Regions from separate parts of the Homo sapiens genome. Here region 1 is linked to region 2. The links come from fine-mapping of genetic effects on gene expression. Tissue or cell type: monocytes. Region 2 holds a variant in brackets; the other region holds the start of a gene. All regions are shown on one strand. Distances are between the middles of the regions.

Evidence for each region. PIP is the estimated chance that this variant, and not a neighbour inherited with it, causes the effect.
Region 1: CATSPERG starts here. The variant in region 2 is fine-mapped to the expression of CATSPERG in monocytes (TOPMed, PIP 0.99).

Annotation. Positions count from the first base shown.
Region 1 is chr19:38,334,540-38,337,219 of GRCh38, reverse strand. It overlaps CATSPERG (catsper channel auxiliary subunit gamma), which reads right to left and starts at 1,390. Exons shown (of 29, transcript NM_021185.5): 1 at 1,345-1,390. RefSeq lists silencers at 603-772, 1,143-1,222 and enhancers at 1,343-1,552, 1,357-1,651.
Region 2 is chr19:38,355,473-38,358,152 of GRCh38, reverse strand. CATSPERG (catsper channel auxiliary subunit gamma) reads right to left here. Exons shown (of 29, transcript NM_021185.5): 10 at 1,610-1,669; 11 at 1,292-1,411. Among named protein-coding and RNA genes, the nearest start is that of PSMD8, 18 kb to the left of the region's middle. The variant A/G (reference allele first, on the strand shown) is at 1,362.

The DNA.
Region 1 (2,680 bases), 21 kb after region 2:
TGGAGAACGCAGGAGTCAACACCCACGCGCCGGACAGCTCTCTGGAGCCCACTTTTAAGATTCCACCTCGCTTCTGCGCCTCTCACAGCACTTGCTCCTGGCCACGCCCCGGCTCTTGCTCCTGGCCCCGCCCCTGCACTTGCTCTTGGTCCCGCCCCTGCTCTTGCTCCTGGCCCTGCCCCCGCACGGACTTTTAGCCCCGCCTCTGCTCTTGTTCCTGGCTCCGCCTCTGCACTTGCTCCTGGTCCCGCCCCTGCTCTTGCTCCTGGCCCTGCCCCCGACCCTCGTGGGTATCGCACCTCTGCTATTGCTCCGGGCCCCAGCCCTACTAATGTTTCTGGCCACACCCCTGCTCCTCCGCCTCGTTCCGCCCCGCCGCCTCCACGTCTCTTCCTTTAACTTTATCCTCACCTTGCTCCTTATTCCGCCCCCTCCCTGTATTCCACTCTTGCTCTTCACCTGGTCTTGGTTTCTATTTCTCGCTTTGACAGTCCCCCTCTTAAGTTCCCCCGTACTGCTTCTGCCTGCGATCGCACCCGTGTACTTCCACCCGGCTGTGCCCCAACCTCTTGCCCCACCCTCGCACTTCTCTTGGTATCGCCGCTTTCTCCTCGCTCGGGGTCTGCCCAGGGGCTGGGTACTGTACCTGGTCTCGCCCGTCTCCGGGCCCCGCCCCTGCTCTTGCTCCCGGCCCCGCCCCTGCTCTTGCTCCCGGCCGGGCCCCCGTTTCTCGCCCGGGGCTTGCTCCTCACTCTGCTTCCGCTCCTGACCGCGCCCCTACTCCTCCACTTGGTCTTTATGGACCCGTTCCTTCCCCGGGTTCTCGGCGATTGGTTCTTCCCGCGCGGGCCCGTCGCCCCGTCCCGCCCTCTGGTAACGCCCCTCCTCCTCGCCCTGCCCCTTCTCGATGAAAACTGTCTCTTCGCCTCGGGATCTTTCCTCGCCCTTCGTTGTTTCCTCGCCCCACACCTTCTCCTTCCACGCCGGCACCAGCTTCTTAGCCGGCACCTTCTTGAGTCTCACCTTCCCCTCGTACCGCGACACCTTCTTGCCCCACTTCTTACTCTTCCTTCCCATGCCATTAACACCTGCCTGCTCTATACCCCGACTCTCCTGCCCCGCCCCGCCCTTCGCCCTTCACGTTCGGCTCCCCCTTTCCCTCCTCTGCCAGCTCCCACGACTCTTCCCCTCTTTCCCTCCTCTCCCAGCTCCCACGACTCTTCCCCTCTTTCCCCTGCCTCTCCCCTTCTCGCCTTCCCCTTCCCCTCCCCTTCCTAGTTCCTCCCCGTCCCCGGCATCCCCCCGCCCCTGGATGGCACAGCTTTTTCCCCGGCCCCGTGGTACCAGTCACTTGGTTAAAACCGGTCAACTGTCACTCGGCCGCACCAGTCCCGCCCCTCTTGCCCGGTCTCAAAATGGCCGCCCACACTTCCACAGCCGACTTCCGCCTTTGCAGAGGCACGCCCTCCTCTCACGCGGTCTCCAAGGTGACGCGCAACCCCTAAGGCACCGAGGGCTGGAGGCTGTCTCAGCACTGAGGGCGCGGGGCCTGGTCGGCAGAGGGTGCTGGAGACTACGTTTGTGCCAGGAAGGCCTTCAAGGAGTTTCTATTGGTTGTTCTGGCAGCAAGCACGGTCCCTACTTGTGCTTCCTACCCAAATATATATATATATATATTTTTTTGAGACGGAGTTTCGCTCTTTCTCCCAGGCTGGAGTGTGAAGTGGCGCGATTTCGGCTCACTGAAACCTCCGCGCCCCTGCCCCGGATTCAAGCGATTCTCCTGCCTCAGCCTCCCGAGTAGCTGGGATTATAGGCTCCCGCCACCACGCCTGGCTAATTTATTTTTTGTATTTTTAGTAGAAACGGGGTTTCATCATGTTGGCCAGGCTGGTCTCGACTCCTGACCTCAGGCGAACCACCCGCCTCGGCCTCCCAAAGTGCTGGGATTACAGGCGTGAGCCACTGCGCCCGGCCCTACCCCAAAATTCTACTCCTTAAAAAAGTGTGGTTTCCTGGAGACCTTGTGAGAATGAATAGGCTGCTTAGCACCGTCCTCTACAAAACAGGACAAGGACAGCCATCCTATACTGTTGTGGGAAGTGTGCCCGGCTCAAGTAAAATATTCATTAAGTTAATTTTCATTTGCATTCTGATGCCTTACAGGTAAGGATTCAGGCCATGACTTTTTGATGAACTCCAGACCAGACGTTTAACCCAGTGGTTTTCAAATTTGAGCATGCATTAGACTCACCTAAAAGGCTGGGTAAGCCAGGTTGGTGGGTACCACACCCTGAGTTTTTGTTTTTGTTTTAAAGATGGAGTCTCTGGCTGGGCATAGTGGCTCATGCCTATAATCCCAGCACTTTGGAAAGCTGAGGCAGGCGGATCACTTGAGGTCTGAAGTTGGATACCAGCCTGGCCAACATGATAAAACCTTGTCTCTACCAAAAAATACAACAATTAGCCGGGCATGGCGGCGGGCACCTGTAATCCCAGCTACTCGGGAGGCTGAGGCAGGAGTTGCTTGAACCCAGGAGGCGGAGGTTGCAGTGAGCCGAGATCCCTCCACTGCACTCCAGCCTGGGCGACAGAATGAGACCCTGTCTCAAAAAAAAAAAAAAAAATTAAGCCAGATGTGGTGCTGCACACCTGTAATCCCAGTACTTTGGGAGGCTGA
Region 2 (2,680 bases):
CTAGTCCTTAGAGTTTCTTTTCTTTTATTTCCCCCCTGAGACAGGATCTCCCTGTCGCCCAGGCTGGAGTGCAGTGGTGTGATCTCAGCTCACTGCAACTTCTGCCTCCTCGGTTCAAGTGATCCTCCCACCTCAGCCTATGGAGTAGCTGGGATTATAGGCGCACACCACCACCATGCCCAGCTAATTTTTTTTTTTTTCGAGATGGAGTCTCGCTCTGTTGCCCAGGCTGCAGTGCAATGGCATGATCTCAGCTCACTGCAACCTCTGCCTCCCAGGTTCAAGTGATTCTTCCACCTCAGCCTCCTGAGTTGCTGGGTTTATAGGTACCCACCATCATGCCCGACTAATTTTTGTATTTTTAGTAGAGACAGGGTTTCACCATGTTAGTCAGGCTGGTCTTGAACTCCTGACCTTAGGTGATCCCCCCGCCTCGGCCTCCCAGAGTGCTGGGATTACAGGCGTGAGCCGCCGTGCCCGGCCAATTTTTGTATTTTTAGTAGAGATGAGGTTTCGCTATATTGCCTAGGCTGGTCTTGAACGCCTGAGCTCAAGCATTCCACCCACCTTGGTGTCCCAAAGTGCCAGGATTATAAGCACGAGCCACCACGCCTGGCTCTGCTCTTTTTTTTTTTTTGAGACCGGGTCTTGCTCTGTCACCCAGGTAGTAGCATGATCATAGCTCACTGTAGCCTCAACCTCCTGGGCTTATGCTATCCTCCCACCTCAGGTATATTCCAAGTAGCTGGGACTACAGGTGCGACTCCATACTCAGCTACTTTTTTTTTTTTTTTTTTTTTAATTTGTAGAGACAGCCTCTTGCCATGTTGCCCCAGGCTGGTCTTGAACTCCTGGCCTCAAGGGATCCTCTGGCCTTGGCCTCCCAAAGTGCTGGGATTACAGGTGTGAGCCCCTTGCCTAGCCCTTTAGAATTTCTTCATGTGAATTATAAAAAGGCACTGCCTGAGAGGAAACAGTCCTGTTAAGGCACAGGACCTGTCTCCTCTGACCCCTCGGTTGGGGGTTTTGTGCACTGCACAGCCTGCACAAATCTACATAGGGGCCCTATTCTCACTGCAGGTAAAATAAAATCTCTTTATTGTGAGCCACAGGGCCCTTTCAGATCACCAAGCCTATATCCTGTTCTCCACTGCTACTCCTCAACCAGGAGTGACACAGGTAATGTTGCCCTCCCTCTGTCTGCTGGGCACAGATCCCTCAGGATGGGCATGCAGTCCACAGTCTGGGATCCTGCCCCTTTGTGCCCAGCCCCTTGCATCACCCTCATTACCTGTGTTGTAGCTGACCACCTGGAAACGTTTACTTGCATTACCATATCCACTCTCCACCAGCAGCAGTAG[A/G]GTATACTCACCCGCGATGTATTCAGACCAAATTATGGAGCAGGTGGTAACTGAGAGGGAAAGGGGCAGTCCAGAGCCGCCCCAGGGCTCAATAGCCTTGGTCCTGTGCCAGCTGTACCCCTCCCCATAACTCACCCCTCCCTAAGACACTGCCCATTCTTTCCCATGACCCCTGCCACCCTCCCCTGCTCTTCTGCATCCTCAGTTCCCCCAGCCTCCCACCGCAGACCCATCGGGGTAATGAGTACCTCCTATCTGCTCGCACACAGACCACTGCCTGGGCAGCATCTCAAAGGACACCTGGCCATCTGCAGAGCAAGGTCGGGTTCATGTTCAGGCCCTCTCCCTCCTGTCTGGCAGCCCATCAAGCCAACTCCGATTGCCCTCCTTATGCCCACCAGCCCCTCCGTCCTTGGGATCTCATTCTCTGGCCTTTCGTCACTCACACCTGGCCTATCAGAGCATGTCTGTCTTTGGTCACAGTCATGAGACTGTGGGTCTCATGCCTCAGGTCTGGCCATGTGACCCACGGTGGGCCGATCAGAGTTTACTCTGGGATTTGTGTTAGAATTAATGGGAAAGATGCTGTCTTCATTCTCTTGGCGTGACTCAGACTAGTAGGTGACTTGAGTCTGAAGCTTTAAGGGGCCACCTTTAACCTCCATGGAGGAATAGCTACCTAAAAATGGACCCAAATTATAGGACCAATAATAATAAACTGTTTGTAACACTCACCACATCACTAGCACTAAGACCTTTACAAAAACCAACTTATTTAATCTTTATATCAACCCGGTGACCTAGATGCTAGTACTACCATTAGCCACATTTTGTAGGTGAAGAAAACGAGATCAGAGAGGTCAAGTTACATATCGAGAGGCACACAGCGAAGGTGTGATGGAGCAGTCTCTCTCCAGAATCTGTGCTATAATTAATTACTATGCTGCACTACCTTACCAAGAGATGGAGTCCTGATGACCTACCCTGTGGGCCCCTGGATCCAGCCATACCTGAAGTTGAACCGTAGTCTTTTCATTTATGTAAGTCCACAAATTCTTTGTGCTTAAGTTATTATTATTATTACTATCATTATTATTAAGACAGTCTCACTCTGTTGCCCAGGCTGGAGTGCAGTGGCATGATCTTGGCTTACTGCAACCTCCGCTTCCCAGGTTCGAGCAATTCTCATGCCTCAGCCTCCCAAGTAGCTGGGACTACAGGTGCATGCCACCATGCTCAGCTGATTTTTGTACTTTTAGTAGAGATGGGGTTTCGCCATGTTGGCCAGGCTGGTCTCGAACTCCTGACCTCAGGTGATC